Linked DNA regions of Homo sapiens. The protein of the gene in region 1 purifies or fractionates together with the protein of each later gene. This does not show direct contact. Each region holds a gene or a part of one and is shown in the gene's direction. Other genes may lie near its edges. The genes, in order: TPM3 and SPAG9.

What was found.
Region 2: the proteins of TPM3 (region 1) and SPAG9 purify together in Homo sapiens (affinity purification with mass spectrometry; 3 studies listed by BioGRID and IntAct, with this or other methods). This does not show direct contact.

Annotation. Positions count from the first base shown.
Region 1 is NC_000001.11:154,176,967-154,189,266, reverse strand, and holds part of TPM3 (tropomyosin alpha-3 chain), read left to right. Parts: intron 1-1,824; exon of another isoform or gene 1,825-2,009; intron 2,010-6,048; exon of another isoform or gene 6,049-6,147; coding exon of another isoform or gene 6,148-6,279; intron 6,280-11,062; exon of another isoform or gene 11,063-11,153; intron 11,154-12,300. UniProt on the Homo sapiens protein: Binds to actin filaments in muscle and non-muscle cells. Plays a central role, in association with the troponin complex, in the calcium dependent regulation of vertebrate striated muscle contraction.
Region 2 is NC_000017.11:50,961,020-50,973,319, reverse strand, and holds the end of SPAG9 (C-Jun-amino-terminal kinase-interacting protein 4), read left to right. Parts: intron 1-2,463; coding exon 2,464-2,613; intron 2,614-6,932; coding exon 6,933-7,048; 3' UTR 7,049-11,146; downstream 11,147-12,300. UniProt on the Homo sapiens protein: The JNK-interacting protein (JIP) group of scaffold proteins selectively mediates JNK signaling by aggregating specific components of the MAPK cascade to form a functional JNK signaling module.

The DNA of each region.
Region 1 (12,300 bases):
AAGTGATCCGCCTGCCTCAGTGTCCCAAAGTACTGGGATTACAGGCGTGAGCCACTGCGCCCAGCCTAAGCCACTGCGCCTGGGCTTTTTTTTTTTTTTTTTTTTTTTTTTTTTTTTTTTTTTTTTTTTTTTTTTGAGACAGAGTCTTGTTCTATCACCAAGGCTGGAATGCAGTGGCAAGATCTCGACTCACTGCAACCTCCACCTCCCGGGTTCAAGTGATTCTCCTGCCTCAGTCTCCTGAGTAGCTGGGATTACAGGCAGCTGCCACCATGCCCGGGTAATTTTTTATATTTTTAGTAGAGACAGTGTTTCACCATGTTGGCCAGGCTGGTCTCCAACTCCTGACCTCAAGTGATCCACCCACCTTGGCCTCTCAAAATGCTGGGATTACAGATGTGAGCCACCATGCCTGGCCTCTGCCATTAGGTTTCTGATCTGTTTTGTTTTCCACCACTTTCAGTGGCCAAGGAAAGTGGTAAGAATTGAATATATTATGCCAGAGGTTAGAAACACAAACTAAATATACATCATTTAAACTCATTCTTCCAAAAGTTAAGGCCAGCACAGGCTTTTTTTTTTTTTTTTTTTTGAGACGGAGTCTTGCTGTGTCACCCAGGCTGGAGTGCAGTGGTACGATCTTGGCTCACTGCAAGCTCCGCCTCTTGGGTTCACGCCATTCTCCTGCCTCAGCCTCCTGAGTAGCTGGGACTACAGGTGCCCGCCACCGCGCCCGGCTAATTTTTTGTATTTTTAGTAGAGATGGGGTTTCACCGTGTTAGCCAGGATGGTCTCGATCTCCTCACCTTGTGATCCGCCCGCCACGGCCTCCCAAAGTGCTGGGATTACAGGTGTGAGCCACCGCGCCCGGCCAGGCCGCCACAAACTATTAATTCTCCCTTCTTGTGCCCAGTGTGGTGGCTCAGACCTGTAATTCCAGCACTTTGCTTTGAGAGGCCAGGGCAGGAGAATCGCCTGAGGCCAGGAGTTCAAGACCAGCCTGGGGAACATAGTGAGGCCCTATCTTTACAAAAAATTTAAAAATTAGCCAGGTGTGGTGGCATGTGCCGGTAGTCCCGCGTACTCCAGAGGCTGAGATGGGAGGATCGCTTGAAGCCAGGAGTTCATGCTTGCAGTGAGGTATGATAATGCTACTGCACTCCAGCCTAGGTGACAGAGCAAGACCCTGTCTCTATTTAAAATGATAAAAATTCTCCCTTCTCAGAAAACTCAAAAAAACAAAACAAAACAAACAAACAAACAACCCTACCAAATCTACAGGTTACCCCTGGGCTTTGGGCAAGTGGATGGCTGGCTGGAGTTGTATAGCCTAGGTTCCTGGTATATTTGGATGGATCTCTCTGTTTCTAACATATGGGCATGAAGATAGAAGTTTTCACAAACTAGCACAATGTCAGGTTAATAACAGTTTTGTGAGAAATTGGGTAACATCAATCTGGGTCTGCTCTTAGGCTGAAACGGCTAGTATGTGGGCTTGAGGAGGTGTTTCCAGGAGCAAGAAAAAGAACAAGTCTAACCTGAGATCATGAGAAGGAGAATAACATAGAGGCTGTACGCAATACATCAAAATCATTAGGAATATAAAAGGATTTCCTGGGGATGAATTCTGTCTATCTTAATCTGTTTTACACATGTACAGACATACACATACACACACATAGCACCCCTCACCTAGATGTGGTCTACTCAGTATATTCATTTGAAAGAAGTTTCTTCATATTTACATAGGAATCCACCAAAACCCATTTAAATATGTAAAGTGAGGGTTAAAAATACTCATTCAACCCCTCTCCCCTTTGTTAGCTTTCCCAAGTCAGAAAGTACCCTCAGAGATATGCATAAGAACAAGAAACAGGAGAGGGAAGGTTGTGGCCAGGAGCAAGCAAGAAGAAAGGTTTCTTTCCTCAAAGCTAGAGTCAGCAAACTACCACCTGTGGGTTAAATCTTGCAACAGCCTGGTTTTGTAAATAAAGTTTTATCGGAACACAGTCATGCTCATTCTTGTACATACTGTCTACTGGCTTTCTTATCTCTCTGGCCACAAGACCCTAAAAGTTGGATGACCCCTGCCTCAAAGGGTCAAAGAAGGACAGTGTTTATAGGAATTGGGAGAGGTGCTGAATAAGGACCAACAAGGTTAAAAGCAGAAAGCAAAGGTAAGAGTCATCAGCAGCATAATATATGCATCTTTGGAGGGAGTATACTCTGTCCAATACAAAGGAAGTTAACAGCTCAGCTTCTGTCCTTGAGGTTAATAAATAAGTAAACAGAGCATATTATCTTGAAGTAGATATAAGCAGTAGAGAAGGAGGAGGGAGTCAATAACTACGTGTTTACACAAGCAGTTCTGGTTATCTGAGAAGCCTTTCTGAAAAGTGCAGGATTTACTAGGACTGCTTGAATAAAGAAAGGGCAAGGGTATGGCAAGGCGAGTCCAAACTTTTTTTTCCTCCCTAAATTTGTCTAACTTTGTTTTCTAAGTTGTGGTAAAATACGCATACATAAAACTTACCATTTTAACCATTTTTAAATGTCTAATTCAGTAGTAGCATATTTACATTGTTGTGCAACCACATCTAAGATCATTTTAATCCAAGATGAAATCAGATGCTGTTTAGGGAGAAACAAAGGGAAAGAGGAGTGCATTGTTAGGACATAGAGTCATAACACCATTTTTTAGGGACAGGTGGCAGGAAGGATGGGGAGAGAAGGGACAACGATGGACATATACACCTGTTGATATATTGTATTGCTGGTTACTAGGAACACAATAGCACTGGGCCCCTTGCTGTCTATCCATTGTGCTTCTAAAGGCTATCATGAGTCAGTCCATCTGTTTGACTGCATTAAGAGGAGATTATCTGCTCAAATCTACCAGTCTCAGAAATGCAGTGGTGCTCTCAATACCCTCTTGGTTTGGCTAGGATGAGGTCTTCTGCTGCTTTACCAGGGCACAGGGAGGTACAATAGTGCCCCCTGCTGAGCAGCACCCAGATGACAAAGTGTCACTTCTGCCACATCTTGATCAGACTTCTACAAAGCAAGTTAGAAAAATTCTTAGGCCATCAGGGTAGAGTCTATTAAGAGTCAGAACCCTGATCTTCCTTCCTAATTTCTGGGGGAAAAATCAGTGTGCAGGTTACTCTATTGAGAAAATTATTATCTATCCAAGTTGTTTCTTCTGAATAGTCTCATTGCTCGGTATTTCCAAAAGGTGATAGGAAAACAGAGGCTCTGCAGGGAGCATTCTTAGAACTAGACATTGAGGGCAGCAACTGTCTTGCCTACTATTCCTTTCAGGGATTAGGACTCTTCATTGTAAGTCCTGTTCCACATCCTAATTTTCTAGGAGAAAAGAGAGCTGTCCCAGAAGAAAAATTTATCACGATTACCTACTGGGAAGGTGGGAGGAATACAAAGAAATAAGAGGGAAGATAACGTTCTCAAGTCTCTTTACTATTGTGCTTCCAGAAATCCTGCATGGCAGTGCCTGTAGGGAAAGTTTCTTTTTTTGTTGTTTTTCTTTTTTTTTTTTTCAGACTGTGTCTCACTCTGTCACCCAGGCTGGAGTGCAGTGGCGCGATCTCGGCTCACTGCAACTTCTGCCTTCTGGGTTCAAGCAATTCTCCTGCCTCAGCCTCCCGAGTGGCTGGGATTACAGGCGCCTGCTACTGCACCTGGCTAGTTTTTTGTTTGTTTGTTTGTTTGCTTGTTTTTGTGGTTTTTAGTAGAGACAGGGTTTCACCATCTTGGCCAGGCTGGTCTTGAACTCCTGACCTCGTGATCCACCTGCCTCAGCCTCCCAAAGTGCTGGGATTACAGGTGTGAGCCACTGCGCCTGGTCTGTTTTGCCATTTTTTTTTTTTTTTTTTTGATACAGAGTCTCACTCTGTCACCCGGGCTGGAGTAGAGTGGCACCATCTCAGCTCACTGCAACCTCTGCCTCCTGGATTTAAGCAATTCTCTTGCCTCAGCCTCCCTGAATAGCTGGAACTACAGGTGTGCACCACCACACCCGGCTAATTTTTGCATTTTTAGTAGAGACGGGGTTTTGCCATGTTGGCCAGGCTGGTCTCAAACTCCTGACCTCAGGTGATCTGCCCGCCGTGGCCTCCCAAAGTGCTGGGATTACAGGCATGAGCCACCACATCTGGCCAAAGGGAAGTTTCTAACTCATAAACAGTTCCTTGGGGGTACTTGGAAGTACAGTGGCATTGAAATTGGTAAAAGTTGTAACAGAATGGAGGCTCAATTCTATAGTACAGTTTACAGGCACTCATGTCTGGCTGTTGCATGAAGGATCTAGTAACAGTCGTCTGTTTTTTATTTTTTTGAGACAGGCTCTCAATCTGTCACCCAGACTGGAGGCAGTGATACAATCTTGGCTCACTGCAACCTCTGCCTTCCCGGCTCAAGAAATCTTCCCACCTCAGCCTCCCAAGTAGCTGGGACTACAGACGTGCTGCCACCAAGCCTGGCTAATTTTTTAATTGTTTGTAGAGACGAGGTCTCACTATACTGCCCAGGCTGGTCTCAAACTCTGGGCTGAAGTGATCTTCTCGCGTTGGCCTCCCAAATGTTGGGATCACAGGCATGAGTCACCCCGCCCGGCTGACAGTGGTCTGTAATAGAGGATTTCTTCCTGATAAAATGGGGGCATATCTTTCTTACCTACAAAAGGAATTGTAAGTGATTATTAAATTATTTATTTATTTTTAGAGATGAGGTCTTGCTATATTGCCCAGGCTGGTTTTGAACTCCTGGGCTCAAGCCATCCTCCCACCTCAGCCTCCCAAAATCCTAGACTTACAGACATGAGCTACCACGCCCAGCTGATGATTAAATTGCCAAGTCCTGAATCATTCCAAGGTTTGGAGGGGCTGGAAGGTTGGTTAATTTGGTGCATGATGACTCTCAAAAGTAACAGGGACCTGTAATCCCAGCACTTTGGGAGGCCGAGGCCGGCAGATCACGAGGTCAGGAGATCGAGACCATCCTGGCTAACACGGTGAAACCCCGTCTCTACTAAAACTACAAAAAAAAAATTAGCCGGGCGTGGTGGAGGGCGCTACTCGGGAGGCTGAGGCAGGAGAATCGCTTGAACCCGGGAGGCGGAGCTTACAGTGAGCCGAGTTCGCACCACTGCACTCCAACCTGGGCGACAGAGGAGACTCCGTCCCAAAAAATAAAAAACAAAACAAAAATAAATAAAATAACAGGGAGCCTGACGGGGTGGCGTGCACCTGTAGTCCCAGCTACACCGGAGGCTGAGGTAGGAGGCTCGCTTGAGCCCAGGAGTTCGAAGCTGTAGTGAGTTGTGATCTCGCCACTGCCGCACTCCAGCAACAGAGCGAGATCTTGTCTCTTAAAAAAAAAAAAAAAAAAAAAAAAAAGGAGAAAAGTCTGTTCTAAATAGAACACTTAAGTTCATACCATGCCAAATAGAATGAGAATTTGTGCCATCTTGCCCATCCCTTCCACTCCGACAGTTCCATTCATTGACTTCCAGGAGACGGGAGAGAGAACCTACCTACCTGAGCCGACTTTGAAAGGAGACTGAGTGGGGCTCTTTTGAACCTGAGGCCCAGAAAGTCTTTTAGACTTTTCTTATAACTTGGTTTTGGAGTTTGTCGTGGGGTGAGTGGAAGCAGAGACTTGTAGGATGTTTATATTGTGGAGCAAATACAGTGAGGGGTGACGGGTATCGGCATTGCGGGAGTGAGGGGTCAATTGCGGGAGTGTAAGGTCAGCCGACTACCTGCAAAGGGGCCAACCATTGTGGGCAGCCAGCCTGGCGGGAGAGGCTAGGGCACGAAGCGCCGCCCAGTTACCATGGTAACACTCCCTCGTCCCAACCCCGTCCCAGTTTACTGGCCCAAGGTAAGGCCGGGAGCCGTACTCCAGGGCGACTGGGAGGATCCACTCCCTGCCGCGGCTCTCCCTCCAGTGGACTGCCTTCCCGCCTGCCTGGCGGTGGGAGGGCGCGGCAGAGGGACGTCACATCCGGGCGGGTTGGTGAGTTCCGGTATTTCAGGGCGTAGCAGGCGGAAGTAAGGGTGAGAGGAGGCTGCAACGCCGAGCGGAGGAGGCAGGAACCGGAGCGCGAGCAGTAGCTGGGTGGGCACCATGGCTGGGATCACCACCATCGAGGCGGTGAAGCGCAAGATCCAGGTTCTGCAGCAGCAGGCAGATGATGCAGAGGAGCGAGCTGAGCGCCTCCAGCGAGAAGTTGAGGGAGAAAGGCGGGCCCGGGAACAGGTACGGAGATGGTGAGGCTCATGAGGGAGGGGCAGGCGCTGGAGTATCCGGCAAGCGGAATAAGGTCCCTTTTGCCGTGGAGCACGGTCCTCTGAAGGCCGGCGGGCTCGGAGATGAAGTTGGGATCTCGGAGGATGGGTGGGGCTCAGCACCAGTAGGACACCAAGCGGACGAGGGGGAAACAGTGCTCGGGCGAGCAGGCTTGACCTTTGAAGAAATTGAGCCTTACGGGGTTTGGGGTGTGGCTTTCCTCCTCTTTTTTTCTCCACCTCATTCATTCAGTGCCTCCGATCCGGGCGCGGCCGTGGGAGGGGCTCAGCGGCTTCTCCCTCCCCCACTTCCCCATGGAGGGTGGGAGAACTTTGCTCTGGCTTGAGGTTTCCTGCCCAAGGGGTAAGAGTGGGTGGGTGCTTCTCTGTTCGGGGAGGGGCAGTACTGAACCTTCTGTGAAATGGTGAGGGTTTTGGGGTGGGAACCGTCGGAAAGACCCCGGCCTGCCTGCTGGCAGCTTTTCCGCTCCCTCCTCCTGCTCAGGAAATGAGGCAGCAGTTGGCTGAGAGGAAGCGCGGTGCCCTCCCTCCCTGGAGGAGCTCGAGGCCACAGGACCGCCTCTCATCCTCTGGCCAGGGGCCCTTTCCTCTTACGGGGTGCTCTTGCAGCTGCTACACCCACTCTCTGAATCTACGTGAAACGGCAGGGGAGGGGATAGTACTTCTCTCAACGTTAGTGCAAATGTAGGAGCCAACCAAACTTGCCTGGCCCTACCCACAATGACCTGGAAGGCAGGAACTTCTGTCAGATTCAGGCCTTTATTGCTGAAGTGTGATCAGTGCAAGCCGAACTGGTTAAGAACATTTCTTCCGAGCAGAGCTGATAAGCGAGTGTATGGCAGAGAATCAGATGGTGTGCCAGTCTCAAGGTTTCTGATTGACTTGGGCAATTTGGTGGAGACAATAATGAATTCCAGGTGACTCTAGTGGAATATTTGTTCAACTGAAAGTGGAAACATAAAATGTTGGTGGAGTGAACAGTGATTCTAGTGATTTCTTTCTTCCTTTCTTTTTTTTGAGACAGAGTCTCACTCTGTCGCTCAGGCTGGAGTGCAATGGCATGATCTCGGCTCATTGCAACCTCCGCCTCCCGGGTTCAAGTGATTCTCCTGCCTCAGCCTCCTGAGTAGCTGGGATTACAGGTGCCCGCCACCAAGTCTGGCTAATTTTTTGTATTTTTGGTAGAGACGGGGTTTCGCCATGTTGGCCAGGCTGGTCTCGAACTCCTGACCTCAGGTGATCCACCCACCTCTGCCTCCCAAAGTGCTGGGATTACAGGTGTGATCCACCGTGCCCAGCCTATTCTAGTGATTTCTTTAAACGTCTTTCTGTTTAAAAGTGGCTGATTAGTTTTAGTGTAAGCCATAAGATTTTCCAAGGTCTAGGGTGCAGTCTAATAGATGGAGCTGATACGAGTTGAGGCTTTGTTTTGGAGGATCTTGAGAGAGTAAAGTAACTGTTGCTAAAATTCAAGATCCAGTGAAAGTACTCATGTGGTTTATTCTTTGTTCTTTGTTCTTTCCCTTGGTAAGTTTTTGTTTTTGTTTTTCTTTTTGGCTGCTCCTCTGGGAAATAACTGAGAATGTTTTTGGGAGGGGGAGGGGTGGATTTCAGAAAAGGATGGTAATTGGGGGACAGCTGCCCTCCAGTTTAAATACTTAAAGATTGTTGGAATACTCACTTATTTTTATAAGTGGTCATGGAGATGCTGGGATGGGAGCTTGTTGTCTTCCTCAGACACCTTTTTCTAGGTAGATTTTTTTCCTCTGTTCAGTTTGCCAACAACTTCTTATTATCTGTGCAAGTGAGATGGACTGGCTGGGTGACTCTTTATGGCCAGTGGCACTTTCTCATCTCCTTTGTTCTGGAGACCAGATAGCTTTAAAGGGGAAGACAGAGGAACTGGCCATGTGTTGAGCTGCAGAATCTTAGGCTCAGTATTTAAATATGGACATTCTAGGAGTAGTTCTAAGGTGGGTGATTCCTGCCTCCCATCCCCCCTCTTTTTTTTTTTAGATGGAGACTTGCTCTGTAGCCCAGCCTGGAATGCAGTTGCACGATCTCTGCTCACTGCAACCTCCACCTCCCAGGCTCAAGTGATTCTCCTGCCTTAGCCTCCTGAGTGGCTGGGATTACAGGCATCCACCACCACACTCGGCGATTTTTTTTTATTATTTTATTTTTTTATTTTTAGTAGAGATGGGGTTTCACCATGTTGGCCAGGCTGGTTTCAAACTCCTGACCTCAAGTGATCTGCCTGCCTCAGCCTCCCAAAGTGCTGAGATTACAGGCATGAGCCACTGCGCCTGTCCTGGGGTGATGTTTCTTAAGCTACTTTCACTCAGAGCCTGCCAAATTTGCTTATTGAGCTGAGGTCTAGTGAGGAAGTCCTCAGAATGGGGAAGTAGAGTTATAGTTAAATATTGATGAAATCATTTCTTCTACTCCCCAGCCTGAAGAAGCTTAATCTTTTGACTTTCTGCTGCTCTGCTGAACTTTGAACCCCTACTGAGGAGGAGACACCTGTGGGAAGGGAGGGGGGTTGCTTGGGCTACCTGTTATCCTCTTAAGGCATTCTGGAATGTGGGTTTTGCAGACTCCTCCCTCCTCTGGAGCGGGAAACTGCACTCTCTGATGGTATCTCATGCTGTTAGTGGGATTGTCACTTAATTATTTTCCTGGTTACTTTGTGTGAACATCCAAGCCACCCTTGTTGGGAAGCTAGATGAGTCTAAAACTGAGACACTGGTGTTCTAGGATCCATCTTTCTTTTCTGCTCTCGGCCTGGAAATTGGTCTTTTATAATGTAGCACCTTGTCAAATTTACTTTCAGTTCTGTATTTCCTTTTTACTTCTGTCTAAATGGAAACAGATGGCAACATAATGTTTAAATGCAGTCTTTTTCCTTATCTCTTTTTTTTTGTGGTAGTGGTGATAAAAATACATGTAAAATTTACCATTTTAACCATTTATAAATGTACAGTTCACCTTATCTGTTTTTAATAACTCTCTCCTAATTGTCCCTGATATTTTTCTCTTTTTAATTTTTTTCTAGTCTAAAAAACTTAAGAGGCTGGGTGCGGTGGCTCACACCTGTAATCCCAGCCCTTTGGGAGGCCTAGGCGGGTGGATCTGAGGTCCACCTGTGGATCTGATGAAACCCCATCTCTACTAAAAATACAAAAAATTAGCTGGGCATGGTGGCGCATGCCTGTAATCCCAGCTACTTGGGAGGCTGAGGCACAAGAATTGCTTCAACCCTGGAGGCGGAGGTGGCAGTGAACCAGGATTGGATCATGCCACTGTACTCCAGCCTGGGCGAGTATCGGCACTGGGGGAGTGAGGGGTCAACTGCGGGAGTGTAAGGTCAGCACACTACCTCTGCCTCAAAAAGAAAAAAAAAAGTAATAACAAAAACCTTAAGAGTACTACCGAGGGAGTGGGCTTTGATTCTGGCCTTAATCCTAAATTCCTAGTCTCTGGAGAGGTTAGAATGCTTGACTGTTGTGTGGTTCTCTTCTATTCGTGGGCCTGGTGGACTAAGCAACCTTTCTTTGGTTGCTTTGCTTTCCTTTCTCTTTCCCCAGTACTAGAACACACACTCACAGGGGAGAGGCAGATAGCCCTTTACCCCTGCTTAGGCTCCGCCTTTGTTTACTGTGGGGCAGATAGCTCTACTCCCTTCCAACTTGCCTCCCCTTTGGTGAAGTTTAAATTCCCCAAGGACACGGTATCTCCCTGGGTAATGCATTTGTGAGCACAGTGAACTCAAATAGTCCTTTACTCACAGGGCTCAAGCCTAACTTTCTGATACTCTTTCATTTGAATTTTATCTGTGGCTTTTATCTAATAAGAGAAACCCCAGTGTGGCAGAAAGCCAGATTTAGGCTAATCCCCTTCTGTCCTTGGCCCTGTTCTGCCTGAGAGTACCATCACACTGTCAGTTTCTTGCCTGGAGGGGTTGACATATTTGGGAAATCTCTTTGGAGTGGAGGATAGCCGAAGGTGTTGTCAGCCATCTGGTAATGTGACTGAGTTGCTGGGGCATTCTACTCTTTCCCCAATCCCTCACCCAGGATCTTTGCTTCCTGGGCAGTGGAGAATCCTATTATTACTTGAAGGGAAGAACCACAGAGTACTGTATATCCTCCACACTGGGCAGAGATAGGTCAGCTGAAACACCAAAACCGCATCTGGATGGGCATGCTAAAACCTAAGATGATTAGGAAAGTGCAGAGCTTAACGTTTCCCAGGGCCACAGGTAGCCTGGTCTGCAAAAAGTAGGCCTGTTCAATCTCTTGGTACCCATTGGTATTATTTGACCTGAAAGGGACAGGCACTGTGCATAGACTCATGAGGGAAAAGTCAGCTTGTCTTCCTTGTTCCTTTAAACAAAGTATCAGATCTTGATTCTGCAGGCTTTTGTTTCATTGTAAAGAGAACTGATCCTCTGTGCTAGGAGAAAAGAGAAAGGCAAGGTCCCATTCCCTACCACTCCACCCTGGAGGGGGTCTCTGAAGCTTTTTCTAGGACTCCCATCTCAGGTTCTGCTTTTGATACAGGCTTGTTCATGTGTGCATGCTCTTAGGAGGGCACCAAGATGTGTTTTCCCCCTCTCCCTTTTCAGCCTTGCTAAGAATTCTATTGTAAATGCTGATTTGTGGGAGAAACTGCCTGAGCCAGCTTGCTGTCATGGCAACTGTACACCCCCGCCCCATAGCCTGTTATCTTCTACTCCAGTTTGGGTAACTACTGGTGAGCTGCATGATGTCTTACATTTCATGAGCTTCCTCTAAATCTAGTTGTATTTTTCGTCTGAGGGGGGTAAGTCATTTTACTAGCAGTGTCTCCTAGGTCTTGCCTGATAGCCTGACTTGCTCTTGATCCATGGCCTTGTTGGGTTTGTGAGGAGAAATGTGTGTTGTTACAGAGAACATCTATTTTTCTGGAAGAGGCAGAAGCAGAGAATACTTGTCTTTGTGGTGTTTTGAGTAGTGTAGTTAGAGGCACAAATGGTTTCTTAATGATTTCAGCTTATGTTGACTTCTCGATTTTCTTTGCCTGGTGGCTAGATTGTAGCCCCAGCCCTCTGCTTCCCTTCCTAGTCTCTTCAGCTTCTCATGTTTGTATGTGGAAGTTTTTGTGCCAGTCCTGATGGTTAAAAAGGAGTCTTTTGGTCTATATTCTTCCTCATCGGAGCTAGTGGCCCAGGCTGTTTCTATAGCTGCACCAACTCCTGCCTGCCAGGAAGAAATCAGGGTAATAGAATTCAGGCACAATCTGGGCTATAGAAGAGAGATCGTGTTTACCAGGCACTTGGATAAGCATCTGAACTGGGTGGTGTGCGGGGCATATTAAATTCTTGTATACTGTTGCAGTCAGGGTACCTCCCACCAGTAAAGGTAGCGGGGAGGCAGTCATGGAAAGAGGTTTTCCTACCATTAGAATTTATCCATCCACCTGCAGGCTGCCTCCTTCTTTCCTTGTTTCTTAGAGAAAACCCATCCAGGATGGGTTTACTTGGACTCTAACCTATATACTTCATTGTGAGATGGAGGCCAGGGGGAAGATTGTCGCTGTATTAGAGGGTGAAGCTAAGGGGATGGCTGGAGGAATAGAAAGGAGAAAATTCAGAAATTTGGAGGAATGGTAGTGGGTGTGGTGGAAATGTTCTTTCTTTTTTGTAAAGCTATCAAAGCAGATAATTTTAGCCAGAAGCAGCTCCTTGTAGCCAACTTAAAAAAGGAGTACGGGGGCACAAGTTGAAGGGCTGGTGAGTAGGCATCCCAACAATATTCCATTCTTTTGCTTTCCAGTCTGGAAGGCTATTCTGGAAGACATTCCCTTGGCTAGTTATTCTTCTGATGTGTTAGGGTAAAGTGATCATAGGAATAACGGTTTGAGTTAAGCAGCAATTAATAGGTAATCCAGGATTCCCTCTTTTTTTTTTTTTTTTTTTGAAATGGAGTTT
Region 2 (12,300 bases), on another chromosome or scaffold:
TCTCCTCTCCTTTTCCTCTCCATTGGTAACCACTATCTTGAAGTCGATGCAAATCCTCTTGCCCCTGTTTTTGTATTTTTACTATGTTTGAATGTGTTTATAAACAATGTATGATTGTTTTGTGGTTTTGGACTTTACATGTTAAATGTTGTGTTTTATATGTATGCTTCTACAACTTGCTTCTCATTTTTTGAGATTTATCAATGTTCATACATAAAAATCTAGTTTATTCATTTAACTGGTATTATAACTGAATAAAAGTGCTACATTTTATTCATTCTTCTGTTGATGGACCTCTAGGCTTCTCCCCTTTCTTTTTTCACTATTAAAAACAATACTGAAGCAGACCTTCTTGTGTGCATGTGTAAGGATTTTTTGTTGGGTATAAATCTAAAAGTGGAATTAGCAACATGGTTGTTGCGAGGCCAGTTGGCCCTAAAGATTAAACCATTCTGGTTGGCCTTATCAGTAATACCACTGTGCTCTTGCTTCTGTGGCAGAACTAACTCGTCTACCAACAGAAGTCATTGCTGGCATGCTTGATTTCTTCCAAAGTATAATTGAGTAATGCATGAATGAATCCCTGTGGGGATACGTCAGACTATCCTATCCACTTTCAACATACATTAATTTTGTTACAGTGTGTCGCATTAATGGCTGTCCAGCTAGCTCCTGGAGGCGCAGTCTGTGTAGTTTGACCAAAGGACAGCAGATTCTGACAAGGAAAAAAATATCCCACAATTAAATCTTGCTAAGAGGGTTGGCTTAGAGATTGCTCATTTGTTCATAGTTGTGAATAATATTTAAAGGTTTCTCTCTTTCTATTATTTCACACTCAAGGATTCTACCTTAGAACTTAAGCTTTAGAACAAACAGCACATTTACTAGTAATTTTGTTTGCATAATCTAAATTAAAAATAACCTGTATTTTCCTTAAATATGAGAGGAAAGCCATAGATTTGAAATAAATTTAAATGTTAATTATGACTATGCAAACTCATAGGGCTTAAGTTGAAGACTTTTCTCAGTCTCTTACACAAATAAGCACATTCCTTTTCAAGGGAGAGACCTTTTCCACTGTCTTCTCAGATCAAAAGATTTAGACTATAATAGTTTGAAGCAGGTAGGCTGTGCATGGTGGCTCACACCTGTAATTCCACAACTTGGAAATCAAGGCAGGAGGATCACTTGAGCCCAGGAGTTTGAGACCAGCCTGGGCAAACATAGCAAGACTTCATTAAAAATTTTTAAGAGACCAGGCACAGTGTCTCATGCCTGTAATCCCAGCACTTTGGGAGGCCTAGGTGGGTGGATCACTTGAGGTCAGGAGTTTGAGACCAGCCTGACCAACTTGGTGAAACCCCATCTCTACTAAAATACAAAAATTAGCCGGGCGTTGTGGCAGGCACCTGTAATCGCAACTACTTGGGAGGCTGAGGCAAGAGAATTGTTTGAACCCCAGAGGCGAAGGTTGCAGTGAGCCGAGATCGCGCCATTGCACTCTAACCTGGGCCACAAGAGCGAAACTCTGTCTCAAAAATAAATAAATAAAGTAATTTGGGCCAGGTGCAGTGGCTCATGCCTGTATTCCCAGCACTTTGGGAGGCCGAGGCAGGCAGATCATGAGGTCAGGAGATTGAGACCATCCTGGCTAACACGGTGAAACCCTGTCTCTACTGAAAAAGTTAGCCGGGCATGGTGGCACGTGCCTGTAGTCCCAGCCACTCAGGAGGCTGAGGCAGGTAAATCGCTTGAACCCGGGAGGCGGAGGTTGCAGTGAGCCAAGATTGTGCCACTGCACTCCAGCCTGGGCGACAGAGCAAGACTCCATCTCAAAAAAAAAAAAAAAAAAAAAAAAAAGGTAGTTTGAAGCAGGCAGCTAAGACCCACCTTGCCATGCATATATCTCATATTGGATTTGGGGCCTATTCCTGCTTTGTTACAAAATTGCTTTACTTAGATTTTCAAATTGGGTTTTGTTTGTTTGTTTGTTTGTTTGTTTGTTTGTTTTTTAGAAGCAAGGTCTTGCTCTGTTGCCTAGGCTGGAGTACAGTGGCGCATCACAGCTCACTGCAACACTGAACTCCTGGGCTCAAGTGATCTTTCTGCCTCAACCTCCCAAGAAGCCAGGATTACAGGCGCATACCACCATTCCCGGCTAACTTTTTTGGTAGAGATGAGGCCTTACTATATTTGCCAGGCTGGTCCCAATCTCCTGGCCTCAAGTGATTCTCCCACTTCGGCCTCTCGAAGGTGTGAGCCACCATGCCTGACCTCAAATCGGGTTCTTAAAACCTTCATGTAAATGTTTTCTGATCATGCAGAGCCTTCTAGCTTCCCCAGTATTTGGTTATTAGAATATATTTACCTTTTTGTTTAACTCTAAAAATACTTAAAAAAAAAAAACAAAACAGCCTCCCTTCTGTGATAAGTAATATTCACTTTTGTTTCTGTATAAAACAGGTCAAGTCATCAGCCCACAAAGTAGCAGTAGTGGCACGGATCTGACGGGTGACAAAGCAGGGCCATCTGCACAGGAGCCTGGTAGTCAGACGCCCTTGAAGTCTATGCTTGTCATCAGTGGAGGAGAGGGCTACATCGACTTCCGAATGGGTATGTCATTGGTTCTGGGTGCTCAGTTTGCACTGTGTGCTATGACTTGGGTTTTGTCCCAAAGTAAATAAGAAACCACTCTGATAATGATTTATAAGAGGTTCTCTTTGAGCTCTTTACACACGAAAGGATTTTGTGGGTTTTTGTTTTTTGTTTTTTTCTTTTTGGTATTTCTTTCTTTTTTTTTTTTTTTTGAGATGACGTCTCACTCTGTCACCCAGGCTGGAGTGCAGTGGCATGATCTCAGCTCACTGCAATCTCTGCCTCCAGGTTCAAGTGATTCTCCTGCTTCAGCCCCCCAGGTAGCTAGAATTACAGACATGCACCACCACATCTGGCTAGTTTCTGTATTTTCAGTAGAGACAAGGTTTCACCATGTTGGCCAGGCTATTCTCAAACTCCTGACCTCAAGTGATCCGCCTGCCTCGGCCTTCCAGCTGGGATTACAAGCCCGAGCCACCGCACCCGGCCCTTGGTATTTCTTTTCATACCAAAATGTATTTGTTTGAAAGGAGCATTAGAAATAGCAGGATGTGGTCAATGTGAAGTTTTATGTGAAAAGCATAGGATTTAGGGTCAGAAGGCCTTGGACAAGTCATTCAACCTCTTAGAGCCTCGGTTTTCTGTCAAAATGGAGAAATAAAAATATTTCTTAAACAACTTCATTTGTTCATTTTCTCACCTAACAAACATTAATTGAGCACCTACTGTGTACCTGTCATTCTTAAACTGGAGATACAGAAACAAATCAGACAAAGCCTTCGTCTAATAGATTATAGAACAGTGCAGAGATAGAGACATGTTAATAAATTAAAATGTTACTGATGCTCTGGTAGTGAGTAGTCAGTTCTTTCCAAGGGTAGGGAGAGAAGGAAGTCAAGAAATGATGCTTGAGGTGACTCAGCACTGCATAGTCTTAGCACAAAGGGTCAGGTTGGGGAATGGGGTGGGGAGGACCAGGGGTTGGCACTCCGAGGTAAGAGAATAGCTTGGCCAAAGGTTTAGAGATATGAAACCATTTTAATGGAAGAAAAACTATTTTAAAATGACAAGAGTGTGGAGTAGAAGAAAGTATGAATTTGTTGTCAAAAGGGAGGGAGGGACTGGAGTATGGGAGGCCTTTACATACCAGATTAAGAAGATTGTACTTTATCTTTCAAGCAAAAGAGAACTATAGGAGCAATGTGATTAGAGTTGTGTGAAGGATGGACTGGAGGTTCAAGACTAGACCTAGGGAAATGAGTTGGGAACAAGTGAATGCCCAAGAAAGGTAGTAACAGTGTGAACAGATAAGAAGCATGATGAGAATGTGGGGAAGGAGAGAATGGGCCATAGAGCTCAGGACTGTCAACAGGAGAAGCAGGTCTGGAGGGACGGAAAGAGGAGTCCAGTGCTGATCATGTTGATCTTGAAGAGCATAGTGGTGATTTAGGTGGGAAATTTCCACTGGGCTTCTGAATATACAGGTCCTCTATCTTAGGAGGGAGGGATTTGGGGGCTGTCAGCATGGAGTGGTACTAAAAGCCATGAGGGTTGGTGAGTTCGCCCAAGGAGCTAAAAGAAAAGGTTCCAGTGGCTAAACCCAGTCTCTAATAAAAATACAAAAATTAGCTGAGCGTGATGCCGTGTACCTGTAATCCCAGCTATTCAGGAGGCTGAGGCAGGAGAATCACTTGAACCCGGGAGGTGGAGGTTGCAGTGAGCCGAGATCACACCACTGCACTCCAGCCTGGGTGACAGAGTGAGACTCCATCTCAAAAAAAGAAAAGAAAGAAAAAGGAAAGGTTCCAGGATAGAACCCTGAATTCATACTCCATTTAAAGATCATTAGAGCTTATGGAGGGATCTGAGAAGGAATGGCCAGAGAGGTACAAAGAAAACATGGAGAACTGATGCTCGTGAAAGAGTAGTGCTTTGTAAATTGTAAGACACTGTACAAATATGTTTATTTATTTGCTATAATTTTTCTTTTTTGAGACAGAGTCTCACACTCTGTCACCCAGGCTGGAGTGCAGTGGCACAATCTTGGCTCACTGCAACCTCCACCTCCCGGTTTCAAGCAATTCTCATGCCTCAGCCTCCCGAGTAGCTGGGATTTCAGGCATGTGCCACCACGCCTGGTTAATTTTTGTATTTTTAGTAGAGACGGGGTTTCACCATGTTGGCCAGGCTGGTCTCGAACTCCTGGCCTCAAACAGTCCACCTGCCTCAGCCTCCCAAAGTGCTGGGATTACAGGCATGAGGCACCGCACCCAGCTTATTTGCTATAAATAAACTGATCCCTTGGACTCGCTTAAAATCTCAGTGCTTCAAAAAGTTCCCAGACATAAGGCAGTAGGCAGTTTGAGAGAATATAATAGTGTTGTAGATCAGTAACAAATACTTTAGATATGAATTCTGTAAAGGAATAAAAAAAAATTAGGGTCATTTAAATGACAATGTGACAAATGTGATTAGTGTCACCAATATCTGATGCAAAAAGTTTGTTGACACTTTTAAGAGGGGAAGGCTGTTAGTGTGAACTTTAGAAATTGATTCCAGGGATGTCAGCAGGAATGGAGTCATTTCAAAGTGTTTTGAATAATTGACTATTGTTGAATTCCCTTTTATGAGAGGAGTTGTTAGGGACTCCACTTGGCTGGGGTGATTTTTGTAACTTTGTGTTGGAGTGCAGTATGTCAGTTGGAACCGTACTGAGGAGTTTGTTAATAAAATCTCTATGTGGTTTTTCCATTTCCACTAAAAATTCCTTCCATTGTGGATCCTGAAAATAGAACAAAAATTGCTTAACCAGGTTTGGCAGTATCTCTAGTTATTTCCAGCCTGAAAAACAGACTTGTCTTTAGCATAGGCTAATTTTAATAGTGAATATACTGTTGTAAAAAATCAAATTTGATCTTTTTTGGGGGTCCATTTCCTTTTTCATTTCCTGTAATATTTTAACAGTGAGAAATTGATTCTAAAGTCCCATATTTTTAATGATTTAAACTTAAAACTTAGGCTGTAGAGACCCTAGCAGACAGGATAATTTTCTTACAAGTAAAATCTTCAGAACAACTCAGAAGAGAAATGGCGACAGCCTTTTGTCTCAGCCAGTTAATTTTTTTCATTGAAATTTTTTAAAATTTAAGAGCCAAACTTAATTTTTTTACCTTCTAACCACCTGGGTATGTTTCAGTTCAGAGATGGGAGTTTGAACTGAGTGTTCTCCTCTCTCTAGTTTGATATTGCTGTGAAAAGGCCATTACAGGGCTGGGTAAGGGAAAGTTTGGCCTGCAGAGAAAAATGCAGATATTTAGGGTTTTTTCTCTTCTGTTGTTTCTAGTCAACAGTATCAATATTTTCTTTTGTCCAGCTGAAATTCACATGGGGCACATTACAAAATTCTGTTAGATCAGTGGAATATATCTTTAGGTCCTGTGGTGTGTATGTTTTTAGGATTCTGCTGAAGAATCCATCCCACTAGACAACTTTTCACTGGGTTGTGCCAAAATAACCCTGCTCTGTGACAACAGATACAATTGATGCAAGCTTGTATCGAGAATTATGGTATGCCCTGCACTGGGTCTTATGGAGAGGAGTGTGGTGTACCCCAGACTGGGCCTTGGAAGCCAGTGTCTGATCAGGACACCATGGATCACATTCACTTAGCCGTGATGCAGAAGAACCTGTATCTTGGCTGCTACCCCAACCTCTTTGTTTCTCCTTTTCCATTATACACTGTTAATTTGTAACCTATCCTAAACTTGAAAATCATTGGAAGAAAAACCCAGTAGCTGGTGAATCTGCCATCTGCAGTGCTGCAGGCTAATTATTTTAATTTCCATATGCTTGTGTCAATTATCTTCAATTGGAGAACATTACACCTGTCATTGATAATTGTGAGTTATTTGGGTTTAGTTAGTTTGCTCTGTACCTGTGCTCACGCATTTTATAACACTATTCTCAGTTCTTAGTTTAAAATAAGTGACAGTAGACTCTTCATTTTGGATGAACACAGAATTGCCTTCTTAGCTTCCCATGTCTGGACCATCGGTATGCAGACATGTTGGGGTGGCTTTTTAACGTAGTATAGTGAACTGGATTTTATAAATACAGTCTGAAAAATGAATTAACCTTTTCTGAAGTCAAGCAGTGGCTTGGGTGAATATGGGTGAGGATTCTGACTCTTAGTATTTCTTCTACTATTTACTCTCCAGTGAAAGTCAGACAAGTTTTGGGCATCTTGTTCATGGACTAACCACGAGCATTACATCTGACTCACATCATTCTATATTTTATGTGTTCAGCCTAACTTGAGTCTTCTTATCATTCACTAGGTGATGAAGGTGGAGAATCAGAACTTCTTGGAGAGGATCTTCCACTTGAACCTTCTGTCACCAAAGCAGAAAGGAGTCACTTGATAGTGTGGCAAGTGATGTATGGCAATGAGTGAGCCCATGGGAAACAGGTGGAGATGGGGAAGCCGTCTCTTCTGCATGGTTTATTTTCCCTCTATCCTTTTATTTAATGCTCTTTTGTGAGATAAGTTTCACCACATAATGTGTGAGCATTTTTTCCTGTTAACTTTATATTACAAAATCCGTTCTACCATAACAATACAGAGGAACTAGCTGTGTTACTGCACCAGTGTTATAGGTAACTTCAGTATATTATGAACAAATCAAAGAATGTTTACTTCCTGCAAACTGGTGAATTATAGAAAGCAATCCAGATGTGGTTTACTCTGCCACAGTCTAATGTCATTCACTTCATTTGATGGGGTCACTTGTTAGCTGTCACTAATAATGGAATTAATGGGAAACACTTGATAAATGAAACTGTACCGTTAAATACAATAGCTGAGTTTTCCCCAGTGTATTGTAAAATTGACACACACTAATACAAGATGGATTATCAGGATGTATCTAAATGTCCCGAGAGGGTTAAAAGCTAACTGTAAATTACTTTAACTTTCACTTTCAAATCTGACAAATCTTGTTTATATGGTATATAAAACTTTGTTTTCATCAGATTTGGGGGGGTTTTATATTAAAGAAATTAAGACTACACTATTTAAATAAACGTTTCCTGTTTCTGACTTATTAGAGCTCTAAAGTTTATGAGGCCTACTTCTCTGAATATTCTGATGGGTTTTTTTTGAGACCAGTCTCATTTTCATACTGACATGTCTGAAAGATTTATTATTTATAAAGCTTAGGACATACTCTGGGAAGCTTAGAAGATACTTCAGCACTGGGAGGATTTTTTAAAGGAAATGTGTTTTGTATTTCTTGTACCAGAGAATGGTGATGTTGATTGAGTTTTTTCCATGTAAAAAATGTACTTGTTTGCCAAATGTTCCTAGATTGCTCTTAACCTGTTAATACAAGTAAAACTGTAGTGGGGATGGAGTCTGGCCTAAGTACAGAATGAGGGATTTAATTAGAAAAGTTATTTTCTTTTGTTCTGTATCAAACTGCAGAACAGCTATATACTTGGTATTTTGTACGTGAATAACGTTTTAGCTTTTGTGCCCTTTTGAGCTTGAAGGGTTATCCTCAAAGGGGAAAACTATGAAGGGGAAGAAGACAAACCTAAGATACCATAAAGTAAAGGTTGACATTACATATTTTCATTCACAATGCCCATTAAAAAAAAAAAATAGGTTGGGCATGGTGGCTCACGCCTGTAATCCCAACACTTTAGGAGGCTGAGGCAGATGGATTGCTTGAGCCCAGGAGTTCAAGACCAGCCTGGGCAACATGGCGAAACCCTGTCTCTACCAAAAAAAAAAAACAAAATAAATTAACCGGGTGTGGTGGCACATGCCTGTAGTCCCAGCTACTTGGGAGGCTGAGGTGGGAGGATGACCTGGGCCCAGGAGGTGGAGGTTGCAGTGAGCCTTGATAGCACCACTGCACTCCAGCCTGGGTGACGGAGCAAGACCCTGTCTCAAAACAGACAAACAAGCAAAAAATAGATTAAAGTCTGGATTTCACTGATTTTCTTGCTTAATAAGTTTTTTAAAACCACGATGCTGCAATTTTTTCCCTCTCAAGCTTCTTGAAAATGTGTGATTTACCCTTTTTTATCTATTACTCTAGGCAAAGCTAAATATGATTTTTTTTTTTTTTTTTGAGACGGAGTCTGGCTCTGTTGCCCAGGCTGGAATGCAGTGGTGCGATCTCAGCTCACTGCAACCTCCACCTCTCAGGTTCAAGTAGTTCTCCTGCCTCAGCCTCCCAAGTAGCTGGGATTACAGGTGTGTGCCACCCTGCCCAGCTAATTTTTGTATTTTTAGTAGAGACAGGGTTTCACCACATTGGCCAGGCTGGTCTCAAACTCCTGACCTCAGATGATCTACCCGCCTTGGCCTCCCGAAGTGCTTGAATTACAGGCGTGAGCCCCCGCGCCGGTCCGAAGCAAAGCTAAATGTAATTTTATGTACTGTTTTAACAGTATAAACCTATGGGATAAAGGCCCCCAATCATCAGAAGGACTACTGAAAAGAAAAGAAAGCAAACGTAGATGTCAAATTGTCTAAACATTCTTAAGTACCACTGATTTTTTTTTTCTGGACTATTATACAAAGATGTCTGTAAAAAGTATACCAGTGGCTTTTATGCATATACACGATTAGGCTAGATTGTGAAGTACATGGGATTTCATGAGCCAGAGGAGGCATTTGGATCCATTGGGCCACATGTGACTATAAGCACATTGTGTACACAATAAAATTGTAGCCACTCATGTATTAAAACTGTTTTGGTAAAAGCTGTATTAAAAGAATAATTTTTTGCTTGAGCTACTTAGTCACTTTTTTGCAGGGCACCAAAATGTAGGCTACTTTTCCATAGCTTGTTTGCTATGTTTTTATTTCATCTTAAATCTGAGCCATTTTTGGCAATATCTTTTAAAAAATCATTATTAAACATTTATTGGAAATGTTGTATAGATTCACAAGAAAGAGACACCAAAGTGTTTGGGAATTTTAATCCCAAGAAGTAAACATCCCAGAGTCAGATCCCATTTGCTGTTGTTCAGCCATGTTTGTATGACTGAATGTAATTTAGGAAATCAGGAGTTAGAGATGAAAAATACAAACATGTCAAATGGTTGTAATTGCTTTTTTTGAACTTACTGGCTTTAACTTAAGTAATATAGGTGTGTAGTTGTTTTATCTAAAGATGTCAGATTATCTGTGGCCCTGTTAATTAACTGCAGGGACCAGAGAGAGGACAAAAATGCCTGTATAATTTGCTTTAAAGGCTTGTCCTTATGTTTGTAATTTCAGTTAAATATTTTCTACAGATTGCTTCACTTCCCCTTTCCCCCAATAACAAGTTCATATTCTTGTAATGTTTACTTTGGTCAACGTGGTAATTTTTGGAAGAAAATGCCAAAATGTAAGCTTCTCACAAGCAGCAAAGGAATGTAACTGCCTGTAGCTACCACATCAAGGGAGAGAAGAGGCTTGCGTACTTTGGGTTGATCTCACTGTACAAAAAAAGTGTACCCCTATTGGAAGAAATAAGGAATACTTGAAGGTTTCTCCTTTTTTTACACTTGAGTCATGTGCAAGGTTGAACCATATGAAATTGCCAGTGTTCAACCATTGCTGATCTGCAAAAGCGACAATATCATATGCCTCAACCTAACACTTACTCTTAAATGCAGGTTAAAATCTCTGTGAGGCAAAGGGATAATATTCTCTAGGAACTCACTTTTGAGAGTATTTTTCTCTAACCCATGTGGATCTAAATTTTAAAAATAGGAATGAATCTCTTAATTGCAGCTTGTGGAGAGTATAAAACATTTTGAGCACAATATGCAGCACATAACTTTTCAGATTGTGTTTGCATAGAAAAGGTTAAAATCAATTCTTTCAGTTACTGTATTGTTCATTTCTTGTAAAGGTCTTCCTACATTTGAGACGAGACCCTTTAACATAGGCTGCCTTAGTAACAAAATAAAACAGATGTGTCATAATATTAACTGTCCTAAAGAACATGTGTCTTGCAAATGCCATGGAACTGAATATTTATTTCCTTGTGAGTATTATGACCGTTACCAAAGGACTCAACCAGATTTAGGGCTCTTCTTAATTGATCATGTTCAGAAAGGGACTCATTTGGTCCCACTTTGTAACATGGGAAGAGTAGAAGAGAAAATTAAATGTGGAAATCATAAATGCTTTTCTAACAGGGTTATGCTATTCTGTAACACTAAATGTCTGTCTTTTCTCTTAAAAGATTAAGTTTTATTAATTTTGTCATACATTTCTCTATTTGAATATATCTTAACCATTTTATGTTCCAAATTCGTTTTTTGTCCAAGACATTCTATCAGAATTTTACTTGCCTCTATAATCTGAAAAATGGGTTCTAGAATGTCCCACTTGCTGTCTCTTAGAGGCTGAGCTTCATTTCTATGAGCAAAGAGCTCATTTAGCAATGTAGTTATTTCAGTATTTATTTCTATTATGGAATCCCTGGGGTTCAGAATGTAACTTTGTACATGAGATATATATAAATATGTATATGAACATGTATGAGGTCTAGTGTGTTTTGTTTTGTTTTTACCGTTCCTGGGGATCTGAACTTGGTTTTTATTTGCAAGTCCAATAATCTTCCCCATCACACATGTCATTCCTGAGGGTCAGGACTGTTGCCATTTGGCACCAGCTAAAGGTGAGCAGTGGGGAACCCTCATGCTGGTCAGCTTGGCTCACGTGTTCAGGTGAGATATGAGAATAGACAAGAGGGCTTAGGAGAAATGTGGGATCCCTGAGTAACAGCCCACACATGATACTAAGGCATACTATTTGCCAAATTATTCAATAATAAGAGGCAGGGTGTAATGTAATTTTAACGCAGCGTGCTTATTTGTGATCCATTTGCTTGGGCAAGACTCGGGAAGGAAGAATGACTATAAAACTGATCATGTGGCAGCACAATGTGACTCCAGATTCAGTGCAGCGAGATTTAATCTCTTCCAGTGTGTTTTGTTTGTGCCTTCAAGAAACGTGGGGTTTTAACGTGATAGTAAAAGTTGCCCCAGTTGGCATGTTAATAGGACCATTCACTAGATGAAGGCATAGTCATCTGTTCAGTGAGGTTGGTTGCCCTAGAATACAATGACTAGGGCGGCTCATTCCTAGTTTTTATAGGACCTTACCCTGCCTGCCCCTTAGTCCCTGGGGAACAGGGCAGGAGCACCAGCCTCATCACTAGAACTGTAGTCTGCAGTGTCCCCCTTGTGGAAAAACTATCTTTCAGACTAGTGGAGAGAGACTGCTTCAGCCCCCAGGCTCTTCCTTAACCAGCCCCTGATCCCTCAGACTCAGTGTAGGCATGAAAGCCTAGAGATCACAAGGGGCCTGGACTTAATCTTCAGCAGCAGCCAATTTATTAGGAAAGGTTTTATAGTTAGGGGACTTCTCAGAATGCCTTAAATATTGGATAATTGATAGAATTTTGCTTTAAACTCGTTTTCTTTAGAAAGACATAGTGGTATGGTGTGAAAGAAGGCTGTATAACCCAGGCTGTGACCCTAGCAAATCACTTTAACATAGTATCCCAGAGTCCCCCACACAGGGCTGTGGAATCGGACCCTCCTGTGGGGTCTGGGCCCAGGCGTCTGTAAAGAGTAGTGGGTAAGTGTGATATTTAGCAGAGGTTGAAGCATGCAACTCTCATGTATTTG